Regions from separate parts of the Homo sapiens genome. Here region 1 is linked to region 2. Evidence: fine-mapped expression QTL. A gene starts in region 2. The other region holds a variant in brackets. All regions are shown on one strand. Distances are from middle to middle.

Region 1 (5,381 bases), 33 kb before region 2:
TTATATCAAGTACCCCATTCCTCTCTCACATCTCCTACCTAGAAAGACTACCTTATTAGACACAACGAACCATTACTCAGTTGGCATTATAGAAAATAGCAACAGTCCTTGCCAGAATCTCAACTCTAAAATCTTTTTTTAAGCCCTGTGTGTGTGTGTGCATGTATATATACATATATATATATACACATACATATATACACATATACATATATATGTGTGTATATACACACACACACATATATACATATACACACATTTCCCCATGCTGAATCAGAGATTTACATAAAACATCCTGCTATGCTCAGGGGAAAGATACTTGTAGTGAGTTAAATTATTAGTTTTACAAAAAAGGCAAGGTAGATTAGACACCAAACACCACAGTTGGTTAGAAATATTTATTATCCCCTCCCCCCACATACAGATTACTTCTCAGAAACATGAAGATATTATCCATGTCCTCATCAATTACAGTTTGTAGAAAATAAACTTAACTCATATCCCATCAACAATGTATTTCTATCATTTTTTTAAACAATAGCCATTTCATTTTTCCATGTTAGTTCCAGAATAGCTTCAAGTTTTATCTTTTGGATCGAATCCAGTCAATCTTTGTTTATAGGTAACAGTTTCCTAACAGATCCCCTCCCCCAACCCCTAAAAAAATTCTATATCCTAAGTGATAAACTCTTCTTGTACATTCAGCAAACTTTATATTGGAAAAGAAAAAGAATAATTGAGATAGGTATTTACTTTCGTGCACAGTAATAAATCTAGCTGAGCTGCTACACCTTGCTTTGCAAAGATGTTTACATAAAATAAATCATCTCTTATCAAGTTACAATGGTAATTTCTTGAAATGTAGATATGAAAGCTATACACTTAATCCACTGAAATTTCCTTCTAATTTTTTAATCTGTAATTAAACCATCACCATAAGGACAAGCTTCATCCCAAGATGTTCCCCCTTTTCCCCTCAGCTATTTCTATCAACTTGAATCCTCTCTCAGATCATGTAAAGAGATACATTAAAAGCACAGGAAAAAAAATGTTTTAGCTTGCTGACATAATGCCCTTAAGTTTGCTGACATAATGCCCACATTTTAACTTTAAAATGTAAAATCAAAGTTAAAGCATCACTTAATTCATACAGTACATTATTAATCAACAGTGTCCCACCAACTCAGAAGTTTCCTAAATTGGCTGCTTTCTCTGCATTTAGTAAGTTTATAACCAATGACTCAATCAAAGAATGTGCTTGTAATAGGCTGCTGGTTTAATTTTAGAATCAAAAGTTTTATATTGGGCTACTTTCAAATATAGAAATGCTATGAGTGACATATGAACTATTAATTTTGTTTCCCATTACCTACAGGAAGAATTTATTCAAATAAAATTTTACAAGACAAAATGCAAATCTATATACCTATATAGAGATGTATATATGTATATATTGAACCTAACTAAAGTTTTATAAGCAATACTAACATAGTTCTGGTTACACATTCCTAAAGACTTAATTGTTTTAAAGATACATGTTATAAAGAGGCTTATGCAAAAGGCAAAAATTAAGAATCAACATGATCTTTTGAGGTTTTCATTACTTCAAAAAGCTGTTTCTATCACCCATAGAAGAAAACTATGCATTTGTTTATCTTAGGAAAAAAAATTATAAAAAGATAATGCTATCATGTAAAGATTCACAAAAACTATACTGTATATCCCATAAGAGTTATACCTACTTAAGGTAAATCACAATTATGGTTTATATTGTACTACAGACATCACCATCGCCTTTCCTCTTTAATAATGAGAGGGTTTAACTTTTTTTTAACTTACTTAACTAGTGCCACAGTAAATCAAGTCCCAGTAGCAACAAGTTAAACAAGATTACAAAATAAGGCATTCTGCTCACACGTCATGAAAGTAACAGGCTTAGTACAGTAAAGCGGGCTGTTATCATTTTTGCAATTTTATATAATCCAAACATTATACAGAAGGCAATCTTTACCAAAAAATCCAATTAATTGCTATTTTCCAGGTAAACAGGAAAACATACATAAAATCCTCAACTTTGGCTATTTCTCCTACTACCATAAACAGATGCTGATCTTATCTACTTAATCAAGTCCACTATTAGAAATGTGGATAAAATGTCTTTGACTATACCATTTCTAAGCCTGTAGGTCACACACTAGATGATTTTTCAAATTATAAATTAAATCTAATATGACAAAATCCCTGTAGTGTTATTTAGGAAAAAAGAAGTGGACTCAGAACATACACACGCACGCACACACACACATGCCATCATATTAAACAGTTGCTTTAAACATTAATTAGTTCTTCAGAAAGAATAAAAATTCTTTAACATCAAGCTGCAGCATGTGTATAAGGGGCAGCAATGCAACCTTTCTCAGCACAAGGTAAGAATATGAATCAACTTTTAAACAACTAGTACCCTGAACCAAAGATTTTGCCAAAGATGAACTCTAAAATACATGTTTTTTTTTTT[TG/G]TCGTTGAAATTTGGATTCAATTGCCTGTTGCACTTTTACATTAAGTGTTGCTTAAATAAACAAAAATAGAGCATAAATTCAATATTCTACTGTCTAAACATTTTAAAGCAATGGTTATGCCATCATAAACAAGTAAAATGCACCTAATTTGGGTCTTTTGACACCTCTTGTTTTAAGTTTCCTGTATGATAAAGTTCTTCACAGTTTAAAATATTGTGAAGAAATATATTTAACTATATTCACATACATATTATGTACATGTACTATGTCTTTGTTGTACCCATAAACTTTGAATACGTGTGTATCAGTAGGATACCCCACACATATGGCAGGAACCCTGAATAATATGGTTGGTGTGGACTGAAATGATTTCCCAGAAAGGCTTAGAAATAAGAAAAGAATATTATTATGAATAATTGTAATAACAGAAATTTTACCTTATTTACATAGTGCCTATCTCCCAAGAGGTAAATATGCTTTACAGACATTTTTTAGTAACTCTGTGAGGTGGGGCATTGGGGACACCATCAATTCTCATTTTCCGCAAGCAAGTAAACTACCCAGGACCACACACTTTAGCAGTGGTAGAGTAAATACAGACATGGAGATCTCCTAAATCCCGAAGTCTCCAATTACCAGATCAAATAGTCTTGTGGTAGTAATAAGATTTCCATCATTCAACAGAACTCCTACCACAAAGGATTAATTTCTAAGTCCTCATACACTTGTGATTGTGCGTTATATTGATAACCACAGGGAGATCAAAATGGTTTTTGGTTTTGGCAGATGAAAAAGTCTAACATTCAGTGTGATTATACTTCAGTGTAACTTCTCCAGTTTAAGTGCGACACAGCTGATTGGTCTATCAGGGAGATGCAGTCAACGTCTAATCATGGCTGAAGAGTTCTCAATCCGAACAGCTATTGCATGATTACAGAGATAGCCTACAATCTTTTATTGTCTTAAAGGTCTTTTCTATCTCCACATATGGTATACACATATAAATATGCATTTTAGCACAAAATGTACAGTTACCATCAGTTCATGTTTAAATAAACAAAGGCCTTAAGGGTGAACTTTAAAGGCCAAGAGCTCCTCAGAGTGCATGTTGTTTAAAGATCGAAGATCTGGCAACTTTAGAAGCAGTTTTGTAAAAATAGAGGCCTCATTTGGATGGTTTTTCATTATTAAGGTCCTTAGTGCACGAATGAGAGTTTCCTGCAAAGCCTCCACAGAGTTGACGTTTTCTATTCCAGATCGATCTAAGAGAGATCAGGAATAGGGAAATAGGAAAAACAGGATAAATTATTAACATTAAATATAAATAAAATTCTTGCTTATCAGTGTCACTAACGAATAGAAAGCAAGGTTTTATACATCTGAATAAAGGCAAAAGTTGACAAATTTCTCAAAATCTCAGTAACAAATCGTTAGCTAGTTACTATATTATAAAGCATATATATCACATAAAACATTTGATCAATCAAAATTCTTTACTGTTAAGAATTTTTATTCACAAGAACATAGAGGTTCTGACTTTTTAAAATTAGATGTCATCTGATTTCAACTGCTTCTAATTAGCAAAATAAAATAATGTAGTATATAAACATATTTTCAATACATATGGAATACACTCCCATTTGTATGTCACCATGTGTGGTAGGCAGCCCCTAAAATGGCCTCCAATGATCCCTTCATCCTGGTATTCGCACCCTTGCGCAACCTCCTCCTACTAAGTGGACCTAGACTTACTAACTTCTAATGAAAAAAAATATGGCAGAATTGATAGGATGTCCGTTCTGAGATTAGCTTACAAGAAACTGTGGCCTCCATCTTAGGTACGCTCTTGCTCACTTACTCTGAGAAAAGCTGCTGCCATGCTGTGAGCCACCCTGTGGAGAGGCCCACATGGCAAGGAACTAAGAGTGGGCTCTAGCCAACAGTCAGCAAGCAACTGAGGTGCTCAGTCCAACAGCTTGCAAGGAACTCAATCTTGCCGATAACTACATACAACTGAAAGCAGATCCTTCCCTACTCAAGCCTTCATATGAGACCACAGCCCTGTCCACAGCTTAACTATAACCTCCTAAGAAACCCTGAGTCAGAGGCACATATCATATCCTATCTCTCATATCATATCTTAACCCTCAAAAACTGTGAGATTAAATAAATGTTTGCATTTGTAAGCCCCTGAATTTTGGGACAATTTGTTATGCAGTAATAGGTAACTAATACACTATGCAACTTTATTGCTATGTAACCCTACATTCACTTTCATTTAGCATATTGTGTTTATTAAATTTGTCATACAATATGTTTATAAACCAGTCATTTGGCATAAGCCTGCAATAAAGTATCTTAAAATCAGGCAAACCTATGTAGATCACCCATAGATGTTTTCATCAGCAAGAGTATTTTTTTCCCTTTACAACAGGAGGCAGGAGTATACAAAAATATTCAATGGTCCCCCACATGGGAGGTTGTAATTAACAAGAAAAAGATTTCTAACTTCTACAAGGAATCAAAACTTCTGGCCATTCATGCCCTTTCGTTTTTTTACAAGGATATTGAGGAGGTCTTCCATTATAAGTGATAGCTGAAAAAGGTCATTTGCCATGAAAGCACTTAAAACAAGGACTAAAATTTAATAGTAAAGGGCAAAAAAAGAAAAATTTGATTAACTCTAAATGCAGAAGAATGATAAAAATAAGTTTTATCTTTTTTTTTGAGATGGAGTTTCACTCTGTCACCCAGGCTGGAATGCAGTGGTGCGATCTCGGCTCACTACAACCTCTGCCTCCCGAGTTCAAGCAATTATCTGCCTCAGCCTCCTGAGTAGCTGGGATTACAGGCACCCACCACCA
Region 2 (5,381 bases):
AATTTTTGTCCTTTTAGTAGAGACGGGGTTTCACCATGTTGGCCAGGCTGGTCTCGAACTCCTTACCTCAGGGGATCCGCCCGGCTCAGCCTCCCAAAGTGCTGGGATTACAGGCGTGAGCCACTGTGCCCGGCCAGTTTAAGGCAATTCTTATTAGACCTCCTGCTTACTGATAGATAGCAGAAACTGTAAACATGGTGGGTAACAGCTTGTAACAGCTTTGAACTTAAGGCCAAATGAACGAGAGAAATTTTAAGAATGGTCATTGTAAATTCCTACACTTCAAGTCATGCAATTATCTGCACAATGAATGAAATCTAACTTCATAATAGTTCACGTGAAAGGTCCTAGTTGACTGCAAGGTTACTGTGAGTCAGCAAAGCAACATGCCAAAAATACTAAGCCTGCCAGGGAATTCATTTGCAACAGGATTCAAGACAAAGAGGGCAACTTGGAACTTGATAATCATCCAACCACTTCCACAAGAGCCTGTTCACTTCTGGGTGCTCCATCCCAAACGGCAACAAGGATGATGAGTGATCAGAAAAAACAATGCTGGGCAAGGACAAAGAGATGAGAACTGTAAATGGAAGAACTGAAGGGGGAAGGGGATGGTCAACATTCATCCGGAGGAATTTTTATAATGTGCCTTGCTCCACGAGGCAAGATTTAGATCAGCGAAGTATTGGAAGAGGGCTCAAACCAGAGAAAAACTTCCTAATTGAGCCAGCCCTTATGAGGTTACTAAAGCTATTAGAATTCATGCTAAAGGGTGGGTTAGAAGAGGTTCACCCTGATCACCTCTGAATTCTAACATGTAGAAGTTTAATTCTATGATAAACTCATAAAATTTTAAAAATACCCTCAAAGGCTAAGTAGGCCGATTAGGTAATCAAAACACAATTAGATCCAGATTTTTGTGAGACAACAGGTTAAAAAAAATAAGTAAATTCTAAAAATACGTAAATAAAATTAGAAAGTGACTTTATTTTTACTTTTGGTGAAAAGTTCACAATACATTTGTTATCGAGGCAAGATTCTTAGAGGCGCATTGCAACTCAAAAAATAAAACAAAAGCTGGCTGTTTCCATAACCTCACTCACTTCAGATCTACCTCATCATTTGGGGCAGACAAAAGGAGGGAAGGGCACCCTGTTGTTCCGTTGCAATGTAACAAAATGTGACAAGAAAAATATTTATAAAGCCAAATTCTCTTGATCAGATTCAGGAAAAGTCAGCGACCCACAGGTTAATTTTTTTTTAATTTAAATGAAGAATGTCCAGTCTTACATATGGTGTTGGAGTCACCTATGATCACCTGAGTCATCCTGACCATACGTGAGCTGCACGCTCAGCTGCGGGTGTGACCCGTTTACTGGAAAACTCCAGCCCGAAGGGATCTGGAAGCAGTTTTTAAGACTGTGTGTGTATGAGACAGGTCGCGTCCTAGAGCAAACGGTTTTTTTTGTAAACAGACGGCATCCTAACAGGGGCGGTGCTACCCAGTCTGCGGGGAGTCGCTCGGGATCGAAGCACCTCAGAGCTCCTTCGAGCGTATCCCTTCGGGAAAGCCCCACGCCTTCCCCGAGGCGCCTCCTCCGGCCTGCAGCACGCCCTCGTCCTGCACTTCCTCCTCGGAATCTGCAAGGTATGCAGCTACCAGCCTCCCCAGGCGCCGGTTCGTTTGGTTTGCGCGGGGTCCGCGCCTTGGGGTCACCTCGCGAAAAGAGCGTGCGGCGTCCGGTGCACTGCGGTGTCAGCGCCCGCTTCGGGGACGCCCCGCCGCGGGGGCTCAGCGGGCGCGCACGCGCGGCCTCCTCCGCAGTGTGCAACCCCGCGGGGGAGGAGGGAATCGCGGCGACGTCACTGCCCCGAGGCTTCCAAAGGGGCGGAGCCTCCCGGGAGGCTGCGGCGCTCCCAGCCAGCGCGCGCGCGCGCGCCCCCGCCCCCACGTGTCCCTGCGGCCCCGGGGAATGTGGGTCAGGGAGCCGAGCGGCCTCACGTGTCCCCGCCCGCCGCCGCCGCCTCAGCGCCCATTATGTAATGCCGCGTCACGCGCCCGCCCAGCCAACCGGCGCCCGCGCGCCGCCGAACGTAAACACAGCGCGCACGTGGCTCGCGCGGCCGGGCCATGTGAGGGGGGGGCCGGGCCGGGCGCCGGCAGGCCGCGCTGCGGCTTTGCAGGGAGACAAGAGGGCGGGCGCCGGGCGGCCCGGGGGGCGATGGGAACCGAGCCAGAGGCGGACACGCGGCGCGCAGCAGCCCACCCCGCCCCACCGGCCATGGGGACACCCCCTGCCGCCGCCCCCCAAAGTGCCCCGCGGGCTCTGAGCGCTCCCTCCGGCCATCCCCCACCCGCCGCAGTCCGGTTCTTACCTGCATTCACCTCCATGGTGCCCTCGCGGAGGCGGCCGGGGCCGCCCGCTTCCCGCAGAGGGGGCAGCGCCGCCGCCGCCGCCTCAGCGCCGCGCCGCCCCGGGCTGGAAGCAGCGGTGGTCGCGGGGCCCCCTCATGGGCAGAGCGGGCGGGGCTCCCGGGCCCCAGGCCGTGCAGCGCACAGCAGGCTGCAGCGAGAGAGGGTGGCGGCGGCCGGCGAGCGGCGCTCCTCGCTGGGTCCCTGACAACAAAAGCGGCGGCGCGGCGGCTTCCTGCAGCCAGCGCACCGCGGCGGCGAGGGCGGCTGACGGGGAGGGCAGCCGCGACCATGTGACCCGCGCACACACCCCCTCCCTCCGCCCGCCCTCGGCCGGCCGCTGCGGCGACCTCCGCCCCGCCGCTCCCCTCCCTCCCGCCCGCTTCCCGGCTCCCCGGCTACCCTTTTCTCCTGCGCTTCCCCCTTCTCCCCTTCCTTCTCCTTGCCGAGCCCCTCCTCTTCCTTCGTTTTTCCCCTCCGTGCCGTAAACCTCTTCTCCGTTTCCCTCCGCCGCATATTCCTCCCCTCCTCCTCCTCTTTCCTCTCCTCCCGGCTGCCTTTCCCGCCTCTGGCCGGGAGTCCTCTCCACGCCCTGCCCCCCAACCTGGTGGCTCTTAGGTCAAAGCGGTGGCTTGGCGCCGAGCAAGGGTGATTCTCAGGACCCCGGCTGGGCCGGCTGGTTCGGGCTTGCTCAACCCTTGCGCCCCCCACCCCCACCCCCCGCTCCCACCCGACCGACCTCCAAACGCTGGTCTCTGAGGGCACAGACCCTTCCCTTTCCCTCTGCACCCTCTAGGTGATTTTATCCAATCTCATAGCTTAAGTAGACCTATGTTCTTGTGATTCCCAGATTTATATTTCAAGCCAAGACCTCTCTTCTAATCTCCAGATTCCTACATCCAGCAGCCCGTTTGATTATGCCGCTTTTTTGCATCTCAGATTTTAGACGGGTGTACGCGTGTGTCCGAACTCAGCTAATGTGCAGTCAAGATCTGGGCGTTTCACCTTGAATGTAAATTTTAGATCAAAAGAAAAAAGCTAGACATAAATTGTATGCGTGCTGAGGTGAATTCTGAGGAAAGTGCATTGATGCCCGCAATTTAAACGCATTACTGAAGTAAGATGGGCTGATAGAGGCATGAATAGATGATATGGTAAGATGTTAAACTTAGGCGATGGGGATATGGGTGTTGCTTGTAAAACTCTTTCCAGTTTGCTCTGAAATTCTTCACTATAGAAGGTGGGGAAAATGTCACGTGGAAGACATATTTACATGTGCAACACCCTATTTCCCCACCCCCCAGGTTTCTTCACCATATCAATATTTACTGTTTTGGTAAATCTGCAAGTTCCTGAAGCCAGCAAAATTATGTTTCTCTCCTAACACTCTCACAGCCTTTTATTCTCCATTCAATCCATTAGCAAGTCTGAGCTATTCTACCTTCAAAATATGTTCAATCCCTGTTTCTCACCGTTGGTATTGCTAGAGCAAACCATTATCTCTTGCCTCAGCTACTGCTCTGGTTCCCTAACTAGGAGAGTGCTTCTTGGGTCCTCCTACAGTCACTTCTCCCCAGCAGTCAAAGTATTATTTTTAAAATGTAAATAAGATCTGATTACTCTGCTGAAAACCCTCCAATGGCTTCGTGTTACACTTTGAAAAAATTCAACGACTTAACCTGACCTGCTTCGCCCTGCACAGATGTGGGTCCTGCTTCTCTTTCCAAGGCTGTCTTGATACCCAAACCCTTCTAAACACAGTTCCCTAATCACGGTAGCCCTCTATTCTTCCCTACTTCTGGAATTTATCACCCTCATGTGATGCTGATGGAAGAGTTCCCCAGGCCACGCTTTGTAGCTTGCTTGCTTTTTCATGTATCAACTACCATCTACTTCTACACAGGTAAAATGAGGTTAATATGAACAGTCTAGAAGGCAGAAAAGAAATCATAAAAGAGGATACCACTCTAAAAAGGCTGTGTACTGTATGATTCCAACTATACGACATTCTAGAAAAGGCAAAACTGGGCTGGGCGCGGGGGCTGACGCCTGTAATCCCAGCACTTTGGGAGGCCAAGGCGGGTGGATCACCTGAGGTCAGGAGTTCAAGACCAGCCTGACCAACATGGAGAAACCCCATCTCTACTAAAAATACAAAATTAGCCGGGGTGGTGGCGCATGCCTGTAATCCCAGCTACTCGGGAGGCTGAGGCAGGAGAATCGCTTGAACCCGGAAGGCGGAAGTTGCGGTGAGCCGAGATCGCGCCATTGCACTCCAGCCTGGGCAAAAAGAGCAAAACTCTGTCTCAAAAAAAGGAAGAAAAGGCAAAACTGGAGACAGTAGAAAGATCAGTGGTTACTAAAGGCTAGAGGGGAAGGAGGGATGAATAGAGCACAGAGGATTTTTAGGGCAGGGAAAGTATTCTGTATGATACTATAATGGTGAATATATGTTTTTACACATTTGTCAAAACTAGAACCTACAACGTCAAGAGTGAGCCCTGGCAGGGCGCAGTGGCTCACACCTGTAATCCCAGCACTTTGGGAGACTGATGTGGAAGGATCAATGAGCCCAGGTATTGGAGAATCGGAGACTAGCCTGGGCGATATGGCGAAACTCCATCTCTACAAAAAATACAAAAATTAGCCGGGTTTGGTGGTGTGCAACTGTAGTCCCAGCTACTCAAGAGGCTGATGCAGGAGCATCTCTTGATCTGGGAGGTTGAGGCTGCAGTAAGTCATGATCTCCCCAGTGCATTCCAGTCTGGGTGACAGAGCAAGGAGATCCCGTCTCGAAAAAAAAAAGAAGTGTATCCTAATGTAAACTGTGGCTTTGAGGCCGGGAGCGGTGGCTCACCCAGCACTTTGGGAGGCCGAGGACGGCAGATCATCTGAGATCAGGAGTTTGACACCAGACTGACCAACGTGGAGAAACCCCGTCTCTACTAAAAATACAAAATTAGCCGGG

Evidence for each region. PIP is the estimated chance that this variant, and not a neighbour inherited with it, causes the effect.
Region 1: its variant is the best candidate, but not a certain one, in a credible set for the expression of NR1D2 in monocytes after interferon gamma (Fairfax 2014, PIP 0.78).

The regions. Positions count from the first base shown.
Region 1 is chr3:23,975,621-23,981,001 of GRCh38, reverse strand. NR1D2 (nuclear receptor subfamily 1 group D member 2) reads right to left here. Exons shown (of 8, transcript NM_005126.5): 8 at 385-3,779. The coding sequence ends at 3,583. Among named protein-coding and RNA genes, the nearest start is that of NR1D2, 33 kb to the right of the region's middle. The variant TG/G (reference allele first, on the strand shown) is at 2,516.
Region 2 is chr3:23,942,590-23,947,970 of GRCh38, reverse strand. It overlaps NR1D2 (nuclear receptor subfamily 1 group D member 2), which reads right to left and starts at 2,685. Exons shown (of 8, transcript NM_005126.5): 1 at 2,377-2,685. The coding sequence starts at 2,392. LOC124909354 (a long non-coding RNA gene) reads left to right here and starts at 2,791. Exons shown (of 2, transcript XR_007095845.1): 1 at 2,791-4,316; 2 at 4,891-5,381. It also overlaps a transcript of NKIRAS1 not described here. RefSeq lists silencers at 1,594-2,135, 1,632-2,821.